2 separate regions of the Homo sapiens genome follow, and region 1 is linked to region 2. Evidence: fine-mapped expression QTL. A gene starts in region 2. The other region holds a variant in brackets. All regions are shown on one strand. Distances are from middle to middle. Region 1 has its middle 26 kb from the start of BPESC1. Region 2 holds the start of FOXL2 (forkhead box L2).

What was found. PIP is the estimated chance that this variant, and not a neighbour inherited with it, causes the effect.
Region 1: its variant is the best candidate, but not a certain one, in a credible set for the expression of FOXL2 in pituitary (GTEx, PIP 0.69).

The regions. Positions count from the first base shown.
Region 1 is chr3:139,127,742-139,133,105 of GRCh38, reverse strand. No RefSeq gene overlaps it. Among named protein-coding and RNA genes, the nearest start is that of BPESC1, 26 kb to the right of the region's middle. The variant C/T (reference allele first, on the strand shown) is at 3,049.
Region 2 is chr3:138,944,649-138,950,012 of GRCh38, reverse strand. FOXL2 (forkhead box L2) reads left to right here and starts at 2,876. Exons shown (of 1, transcript NM_023067.4): 1 at 2,876-5,364. The coding sequence starts at 3,291. The coding sequence ends at 4,421. FOXL2NB (FOXL2 neighbor) reads right to left here and starts at 2,796. Exons shown (of 3, transcript NM_001040061.3): 1 at 2,549-2,796; 2 at 374-493. The coding sequence starts at 2,648. RefSeq lists a silencer at 2,632-2,860 and an enhancer at 4,901-5,364.

The sequences.
Region 1 (5,364 bases), 180 kb before region 2:
AGCCTCAAACAAGGTGTGGGAGGGGAGGGAGGATAACTGCCTTCTAATAACAGAGAGAGGGCACTTCTGCCTAGCAGCTTCAGGAGAATCTGGAAGTTCAAGGTTCTCAATTGTATCTACCCAGATTTCCCCATCTCAAGAACCTGAGGCTTGGTGTGCAAAGCTCACTGGGATTGAGAATTTGACTTCTGTAGTTCTGCTACTCTTATAATTAAGCCTAGTCTTCTGCTTTGTCTGCCCTCTGGCTGCATAAGATTAGTGTTTGCTTAAATGATGCTAACAAGGCTCTCTTGCTTTTCCATTTTGCCTTAAATTTGTAATTAGTTACCCAAAGCCTGCCATTATCTCTCTTCAACAAATGAACGGCACTCAACAACAACCACACAATTCTATAGTCCCCATAGTTATCATTTCCCTCATTCCTCTTAAGTGCCAGAAATAATACATCAACCCAAATTGCCTGCCAACAACATTCTACCCCAGCTCACCAATGTGCAAGTTTTAGCAACTGCACCTCTACAGCACACCAGGGGCCATCTGTGGGCCCACCTGTGATGGGGTCCTCATTGCCAGCCAGCTGACAAGGGACCATATTTTAGAGTCTAAGTCACAGGACCACTCTGGGAGCCAATGGTTTTAGATTGGATTTCCTAAAAAGACTTTGAGACAGAGCTGTATGCAGAAGTTCTCTTGGGGGTGTTCTTAAGAGAGATGTCAGGAAGGATGTAAGGAAGGAAGGCAGAATAAGGCAGAGAAAGAAACTGACCACAGTGCAATTTGCAACCAAGGCCTCAGCTGATCCTATCAGCTGGGCCTTGGTATTTCCATACCAGCTAGTCACTGGCCCATGGGCCACCCTGGGAGGGGACATACCCTTAGATAAGACAGTTTTCTACAGTAGAGGGCAAGGCTCAGTGAGGGATGCAGCTGTGAGCCATGAGCAGCAATATCTCCAGCAGCTGGGGGATGACGTGTCAGCCCTGAAGAGATCTGGGTGGAGCACAATGGCACCCCACAATAATGTCAGTAGGAGTCTGTGATGGCAGGGGTTAATGTGGCTCCAGGGCTCATCCCAGTTTTCAGCCTCCCTCACCCAACTCCCTAAAGGCCCTGCTGTCTGTGGATTCCTGGCCCCTGGGGCCTTGGCCTACAAACCACAGGGTAATTGCACATTTGGTTTTAGGGATTGGTGGGATTTCAGGAACTTATCCCTAAGCAACTGCCATCCAGATGGAGATACTAGGGCCACTGGTCTCTGAGTGAAATCACAGTATAGGTAGGGCGAGAGACAGCACTGGGAGTTTCTGTCCCCACACGTATGGGTAAACAGAAGCTCCTGCCACTAACAGCTCCCTGCAGCGTTTTCACTAGGGAACGGGAAGATCCAGGCTAAAGGCCCCTCTTCCGGGTGTCCTCCCAATGCCTATGACTCTAACACTGTTTGGGTGCTCCCTTCACTATCTCCTACAATGTGACAGGACCTACCCTTCATACAGCACATGAAGTTCTGCTGTTCCCCAGACAATGAGCTTCTACCTTGCACCGAGCCCTAAGCCAAGCACCCCACACATATGATATCATTTAACCCTTGTAACAATCCCTTGAGAGCATTATTATTGTTCCCATTTAGAGATAAAGAAACCGAGGCTCCAAAAAGTGAAATGACTTTCCAGCTAAATTTTCTCCCCCGACTCCCCCATAACCTGCACTGCACTCTGAAAACCTACCTGGTCAGAGTGTGAGCTCCCAGGGCTGAGGCCCTGTCCCTTCACTCTCTTGGTCTTGTGTGGCCACCTATCTGGCTCAGGCATAGCTCAGCGAAGCCCTGGAGGATGGTTTAGGAGCATCCCGATGATTGTGAGGGCAAGACCGCTCTTTTAGGATGACCAATCATCCCAGCCTGCCCAGGAATGATTGAGTTTTTCTGGGACTCTGGACTTTCACCCTACTCTTTTCCCACTCTTGTCCCCATTCTCAAAAGAAAGAAGGCAGTTGGTCTGTGATTATGGATGTGGTTGGCCTCAATGAGGGGACCACTGTCCTCAAACCCAGGCACTGCTCTCCCACCAACAACCTCCCTCTCCAGCAGCCTGACCAACTCTTGCTCTACCTTTCAGTTTCAACACATGTCATCACCCCAGAGGCTGTGTCATCTTCCCCAAAAAGAACCTTGTGCTTCTGTCTACTCCTATACCAAGCATGCACCCACCTCCACCTCCAAACCAGACCATGAGCTCCAATAGGCAGCGCCAAGGACATTGCTGGCCTGGCAGAGAGAAGAGGCTCCAAGACATTTGCTGAGTAGATGAATAAGTGGATGGGCAAATGGTGTTTAATTGCACCTTAATTGTTGTCTGTTCCTTACCTATTTATCCATGTAGTATTTTTTGATGCCCCTCCCCCTAGCCAGACTACCAGCTCAACTGAAAACTGAGGCTGGATCTTTCTTTGGGTCTTCCCCACAGTGCTGAGCACATGCACACAGCAGGGCACACTGTAGGTGCTCAGGAAAGGCTTTGAATGGATGCTTAAGGACACTTGCTGCCTGCAGTAAACTTTCTCAGGCTCCCTAGAGCATAGCAGATACGACTGCAGCTTTTTAAAATACTTCACACCCTGATCTGCATCAGTGGCTGCCTTTGAGCCCAGCACCCAGCGTGGCTGCTTCTCTGCAGGTCAAGGCTGTGCCTGATTGAAGAGGTAGGGGGTCAAGTACACTGGGCAGAGCTGGAGGAGTTCCTGTACTGTTTCCTCTGATCAGGAGTGGAACTTGTGTTGGGAGATGCCAGCACCTGCCATTTCAGCTGGCTGCACCTCTTAAATGATAGTGGTCTTGGCATACCTGTTCATCTGTTCGTCTATCTGTCTTGGGGCATCTCCAGCTTTTTCACCCACTCCCTTCCCCACACATCTCATTGGCCCTCTGTAGGCACCAGGTCCCATCCATATTCACAAAGATGAAGCCAGCAGAGCAGCTGTTCTGTTCCCTGGGGCCTGATGTTCTAAAGGGGAATAATGACTACTCATGAGTGTGCTTAACTGAGTTGA[C/T]AGATGCTCATAGCAGACTGGACTTACTGTTCCTTGCAGTCTTCACTGACTTCAGTGTATACGGAGAAGACCAAATTCCACCCCTAGGCAATACTCTGGTTTCAGACTGAAATTTGAAGACAGAGTTAAGAACCTAGTTCAAGGGGGGCCACTGGAAGCACCAAAAGTTGTAGCAACCGTTGAGTCTACCTGTTCAGATGGTTTGTTTTGCAGGAACCACACATACACACACACACACACACACACACACACACACACACACACACACACTGCCTTCAAACTCCTCTGACTTGTCTTCATCACCTAACCAGTTTTCAACATACCCCACCCGTGTCTACCTGCTCAGCTCAAGTCAGGGGTGTAGCTCAGCACATTCATGGGTGATCGTACCTCACCATCATTCCCAGTAGTAAGCCCCTGTCTCCTTAAATTGCTTACCTGCTTATCTGGATTAAATCGAGCACCTGAAATGGGCCAGACACCATGCCCATTTAATTTAGTGCTCAAAGTTTATATATTAAATAATTTAGTGTTCAAAAAGAGTACTCTGTGTATTAGCTCCATTTAACAGATAAGAAAATCGAGTCTCAGAGAGGTTAAGTGACTTACTTAAAGGTACACAGTGGTGAAACCAGAATTTAAAACTAGGTCCTCTGATTCCAACCACTGCTCTTTCCACTACACTGCCCTAATTACATTTAAACATCACACATAACTGACCACCACTGCCTCTTTGTGCACCAAGACCTCCTCCCACACACCTCTCACTTTGCTCTGTTACCCAAAGTCAGGTGGCAACTCTAACTCTGAGTCTTCTTCATGCCAGTCATTGAGTCCTTTCCAGACACCTCTCCAGTTCCTCTCCCATCCTTCTCATTCCATTCCTACTGCCTCTGCATGGGAGAGTCCTCACCAGCTCTCCTTGTGTAACCATCACAACCTGCCCTCCCCACCCTTCCAATGTCATCACCCCATTCATTCCCTCCCCACAAAACCTCAGACTTTCTGCCTCTCTGTACTAGTCCTGCCCCTCCTAAGTAAGCCTTGCTGTCTCACAACTCTGCAGATGACAACAATGCTGCCCACACACTCTGCCTGTGAATTCCTAGTCATCCTTCAAAATTCAGTTCAAATGTTACCTCTGCTGAGAAGCGCCCGCCCCAGCTCTCCCAGGCAGAGATGGGTGCCCATCCTTTGACCTTTTTCAGTATCCTTATACTTAGCCCTCCCTGTCTCATGTCCTTTGCCACACACTAATGCAATCATTTAGTGTATGTGTATGTGTCTTCCCTATTACTCTCTGACTATCTCTTATCTGTCTTTGGCATTTTGTTTTGTGTGTGTGCATGCAGGCATGCATGTTTGACCTTGGGTGCAGACAGTTGTGTTAAACGTGCTTCTTGGTTTCATGGAACTCCATCATCACTGGCCCATGAAGGCCTCTCTTTTATCCCTATTCCCACCCTCCTTCCCCTCCTCCTCCTATTTGTCTCTGTGTGCCCAGGGCCTAACACAGCACACAGAAGGGTGCTCAGCAAATGCTGCTGGGTGCAGGAGATGGATGACAAATTAGTCATACACCCCATTTAATCCCATCCCTTGGAGATTTCATCAGTCAGCCAAAGTGGAGAATGGTATGGTTTAACTGGCACAGCCAAGGAAATGAGAGTTATTGAACAAGATCAAGTCTTTGTTGTTTGAAGTCCTGGCTGTTGCAGAAGAAATAAAAAAGGTCAAGAGTTTGAGACCACCCTGGCCAACATGGTGAAACCCCGTCTCTAGTAAAAATACAAAAATTAGCCGGGCATGGTGGCATGCATCTTATAATCCCAGCTATTAGGGAGGCTGAGGCAGGAGAATCACTTGACCCTGGGAGGGAGAGGTTACAGTGAGCCAGGATTGCACCACTGCACTCCAGCTTGGGTGACAGAGTGAGACTCCATTTTTTAAAAAAAATGTACACATCAGAGGCCAGTTTATCATTTGGGGACTGCAACGTAAAATTTTTGATGCAAAATTATTTCAATCCAACAAGCCCAAGATAGAACTCTCAGCTCTTCATCCAAAAGGGCACTGGCCTCCCCAGGAGTCACCTGAGAGGTCATTCCCTTCCTTCTAAAGATGCTGCTATTGTCCATAGATCTTGCTATTGATCTATAGACGCTCGTTATCGTCCGTGATCTTGGCTCATTGCGACCTCCGCCTCCCAGGTTCAAGCAATTCTCCTGCCTCAGCCTTGAGTAGCTGGGATTACAGGTGCCCGCCACCGCGCCTGGCTAATTTTTGTGCTTTTAGTAGAGATGGGGTTTCGCCATG
Region 2 (5,364 bases):
ACCCTGGCCTTTGGAGGTGAGCGCCGCCCCAAGGTCACTAAGCCGGGGGCCCTGCGTCGCCCCAATGCCGCGGGGAGAAAAGGAACCGGCCCTGGCGTCCACAAAACCTAGGCACAGTATGCCCTGTTCAGAGAGGATCCCGACCTCGCCAGCAACCAGCCTACCTCCGAAGGTTGAGAAGTAAATCAGGGCGCCCCGCACCGTTTCCTGGAGCGCCCGGTTCACCCACCTCTGGCTGGGCCGGCAAGGAGAGGATTCTGTTCTCTCCCTAGATTCCTCTATCTCCAGCCCGAAGCCCCTGGCTTTTCCGCAGAAGCCTGGAGGGGACCTGAAAGTAATCATTCTGCCAGCTTTCCCGCCCGCATTTTCTTGCCTGTTTTCTGAGCCTTCGAATGCCGGACAGCCATGTGAAGGCACATCTTGGGGAGACCGATTCCAGCCCTTCCCAGGGTGCACGCATCAGGCATCCTCTTCTTCACCAGGGCTGGGGATTCTGTTCCTCTACGGGACAGTCAGAAATCAGTATTTTCAGAGCAGAACTCCTTTCTATTCTGAAAATCCTTCAGAGGAACTCCTTCATTTGCCCCCAACCCCTACACACACACACACACACACACACACGCACATGCATACACACACAGGCTCTTTAAAGGCTGAAAAGGGAGCCGAGTGTGGAATTCAGGGAAGTGATGACACACACAACAATGCTGTTACACCTGGCTGCTGCAGGGCTGAGCAGCGGAAATGCCTGTGAGAAGAAGAAAGAAAGACAGAGAGACGCAGAGAGCCAGCCTGGGTGGTCAAGAAAAAAAAAAAGGAGAGAAAAGGAGAGAGGAGCCCCCACCAGGATGGGGCCAGACCCAGCTGTTTTTCCCCCTGCCCAGGCCCTGGCTGGGGGAGGATAGGCACTGAGGCCAATCTGCAGCAGCCCCAAACCGGACTCACCACTCCCACCCAAAGCTTGGGCAAGGATGGGGGTAAGGAAGAAGAAAAACATCTGCACTCCTGCTCAGAAAGCAGCAGCAGGGATTCTGCGGAAGTGCTGCTTCCCCCATGTCTGTTGGGTGCAGTGGGAGACCGCCCATAAAAAAAACCAAGCTACTTTGGGGATAGCCTTGCTCCCTCTCATCCTTGTGACCAGGCAAGGGCTGCCCTGCTGACCTCTCTGGTGTCATCTTCAAGATGCTGAATTCCAAAGAGCCCTACCACCCTTGTCCTCCCTCCCTTTCATCTCAGAATGCAGATCAGAGGCCTGAGTGAGCAGCAGACAACACTTGTAGATGGCCTGTGGATGCTGGAACCACAGGCCGCTGAAGGCTCCTTGGGCTTCAGGAGAACCCTCAGAGTCTAAACAGCCTGGGAGGAAGAGGCAGTGACAGGCATTGAGTCAGCCACTCCAGACATGCCAATCACTAATGCACAGCTATATGACATCCATTCAGTCCACCTTCCTCCATAAGGTGGCCTTGCCCCCCTCCTCAGCACCAAGGAGTTTGGGGCTTGAGGATTCAAAACACTGGCCATCTCTCTCATACTTTATGACTGCAGACTTTTTGTTTAGGCCAAGTTAAAAGGCACTGTTAAGGAGCACACTGTTAAAAGGCACACCTGATTTTCCCTGAAACAATCTCTGTACATGCTGAAATAATTGGATTCCCATCAGAATTCTGCTTAAGGTAGGTGACAACTAACTCCTGATTCTTTGGAGAAAGATCAGAACAAATGTCTCATCAGGAGAGAGATTTGAACAAGTCCCTCCCTCAGCCTGATGTTTGTCTTCCCAGTCTGTGGCAAAATACATACACTGGGAGGGAAAGAGGCATCGAAGAATTGTGAAAGAAAGGAAGAAAGGGGGGAAGGAAAGAAGTAAGAAAGGAGAAAAAGAGAAGATGCTATATCCACCAGCTACATTTACTCTAATACTTGATGAACATATTACATAACTATCAGTATAAGTGTGTTTTACCTCGTAAATACAAATCTCACACCTTGTACATGTGCATACCTGTGTTTCTGAGCAGCACACATGCACCTGGTATCTCACCCATCTCAAGGACAGCTCCTCTCCATGACTTCCATATGTGACCCCTGTGCACACACATACACAGTCCCGCAAAGTCCCGGGCAACAGCCCCGCCTGTGTTAGTGCAATAGCTGAGGGGCATCTACTTGGTGCTGTTAAAGCACACATCCAACCTTCACTCCAACCCCGTAGGATTAGTACACGGATTCCTGGTTCCTAGATCCACTGGTAACGCAGGGAGAGGCAGAGGTGATTCAGGCGGCGCCCCTGACGACTATTTCCAGAGATCCTCTCCCCTGCCCCATTCCAGCCCAGTCACTCTGAGAGCGCGAGGGACAGGCCAGGCCGAGGCTTCTTCGTACAGTCACACCCGTTTCTGGGCTGACTTTCCCAAAGCCTCAGAGCAGCTCTCCCCACCCTACCCCGTCCAGCCCCCTCGCCGTCTCGCCCCTCCCCAGCCCCGAGCTAGAAGTTCAGCCTCAAGACGGCAGCAAACGGCAGAGCAAAGGAGTCGTTTTCTTTCACCTGAAAGCCGCGAGGAGGCTTGGAGCGCCTTTCCTCGCTGGGGCCCGAGCTTCCTGGGCTTTGGCCGGGTGCGGGCAGACCCCACCGGGGTCCTCGTCATCTCCCAGCCCAGCCCGCAGAGCGAGTACCGGCAGATTTCAAGGGCGCGTGAGCCTGGCTGTCGGCTGGGCCCCTGAGGCTCGCTGGGCGGGGGCAGGCCGGTCCAGGCTGTGCGGGGCGTTTACAAAAAGTGACTTGGAGATGAACTCGCCCGTGCGCGGCTGGCCGCCCCGCTATAGGGGCGAAGGCGCCTGACGCAAGCGGAACTCGGTGGAGCCCATACGAATCAGAACAGAGCGAGGCTCCTGGCGCACTAGGGACTCCAGGAGGCAGCTCCGCCAGAGACGCGGGTCGTGCTTCGGGAAACCGGGGGGCGGGGGGAGGGGAAGAGCGCAGAAAAGAAAACCCACCAAGGCGGGGACTGGCCTGAGCGGGGAGGGGCGGCGAGGCCGGAGCCCCTCTCTGTTGGGCGGACTCCCCATGGCCAGAGGCTGAGCTCCACTCCCGCCGGCCGCTCCCTAGGGGAAGGGGAAGGAGAGGGGAGAGCAGCGACAGGCCTCCAGCAAGCAAGCGCGGGCGGCATCCGCAGTCTCCAGAAGTTTGAGACTTGGCCGTAAGCGGACTCGTGCGCCCCAACTCTTTGCCGCGCCAGCGCCTGGAGCGGAGAGCAGAGGCGGCCCGGCCGCGGCGCGCCGGCTTTGTCATGATGGCCAGCTACCCCGAGCCCGAGGACGCGGCGGGGGCCCTGCTGGCCCCAGAGACCGGTCGCACAGTCAAGGAGCCAGAAGGGCCGCCGCCGAGCCCAGGCAAGGGCGGTGGGGGTGGCGGCGGGACAGCCCCGGAGAAGCCGGACCCGGCGCAGAAGCCCCCGTACTCGTACGTGGCGCTCATCGCCATGGCGATCCGCGAGAGCGCGGAGAAGAGGCTCACGCTGTCCGGCATCTACCAGTACATCATCGCGAAGTTCCCGTTCTACGAGAAGAATAAGAAGGGCTGGCAAAATAGCATCCGCCACAACCTCAGCCTCAACGAGTGCTTCATCAAGGTGCCGCGCGAGGGCGGCGGCGAGCGCAAGGGCAACTACTGGACGCTGGACCCGGCCTGCGAAGACATGTTCGAGAAGGGCAACTACCGGCGCCGCCGCCGCATGAAGAGGCCCTTCCGGCCGCCGCCCGCGCACTTCCAGCCCGGCAAGGGGCTCTTCGGGGCCGGAGGCGCCGCAGGCGGGTGCGGCGTGGCGGGCGCCGGGGCCGACGGCTACGGCTACCTGGCGCCCCCCAAGTACCTGCAGTCTGGCTTCCTCAACAACTCGTGGCCGCTACCGCAGCCTCCCTCACCCATGCCCTATGCCTCCTGCCAGATGGCGGCAGCCGCAGCGGCTGCAGCAGCTGCGGCTGCAGCCGCGGGCCCCGGTAGCCCTGGCGCGGCCGCTGTGGTCAAGGGGCTGGCGGGCCCGGCCGCCTCGTACGGGCCGTACACACGCGTGCAGAGCATGGCGCTGCCCCCCGGCGTAGTGAACTCGTACAATGGCCTGGGAGGCCCGCCGGCCGCACCCCCGCCTCCGCCGCACCCCCACCCGCATCCGCACGCACACCATCTGCACGCGGCCGCCGCACCGCCGCCTGCCCCACCGCACCACGGGGCCGCCGCGCCGCCGCCGGGCCAGCTCAGCCCTGCCAGCCCAGCCACCGCCGCGCCCCCGGCGCCCGCGCCCACCAGTGCGCCGGGCCTGCAGTTCGCTTGTGCCCGGCAGCCCGAGCTCGCCATGATGCATTGCTCTTACTGGGACCACGACAGCAAGACCGGCGCGCTGCATTCGCGCCTCGATCTCTGAGAGCCCACCGCATGCCGGTGCAGACGGATGCGAGGATGCAGGGACGCGCGACGCCGGCCCCGGTCGCAGCCGACGACGCCGCCGCCAGCCTGACCTCACACCCTCTGGGCCCGCCTCTGGAGCCAGCGCCCAGGGTCCCTCTGTGCTTTTTCGCTTTCCTAAGCTCCTGTCGCTCCTCTTTGTCCCCTCAGTTTATGTCCTCCTGTGCTCACCTCCCTGACCTCTGTGACCTTGCACTCCCCTGGCCTGAAGCTGCCTCTCTGCGCGCTTTCTACTGGGCTCGTCTCTTTCCGGAGCCCCAGCGTCTCCTGCCCAAATTCACCGCGGAAAGGGCCCGGGGCGGAGGTGCGACCGGGCGTCGGCAGCGCAGACCTCTTGGCCTTCTCTCACAGGTCGGTGCGCTCGCTCTCCGCGTTCCCCGCCCGACTGCCGTGCAGTCCATGGCTAGACGCGCCGGACAGGACTGATGGCGGGACCGCGCTGCCCGAGAAAGGGACGGACCAATACGTGTGTTTGCTCCGCGAACCCTCTTGAAGCTGTTCAGAAGCCGCTTGCCGCGGGGCCCACTAGGCGGGGCGGGGGTTGGGACCCAGCGGGAGCCGGGGCAGCCTGGCTCCACGGCCTGTACTCGGTTTACACCGCGGGCGGGCGCGGAGGGAGGCTGCGTTTCCTCCGCTATCAGTCCCGTCGCTTCGGGCACCTCCGGGCCCCGGCGGCTGGCTAATGTTTTGTTTGAAAGATCGGTGGAACTTTTTAAGAGAGTATTTAAAAAAAAAAAAAGGAAAAAAAATTCACCGGGCAACCGGGGAAGTATTGTGGCCTTGGAGTTTGCTAAATCCAAATATGAAAATCAAAAGCTTTAGTATTCCTCATCTTCTCTTCTGGAAGATTTGCGTTAGAGTTTTTGTTGGGCCTTCAAAAAGCTGTGTTCAGAGTTAGGAGA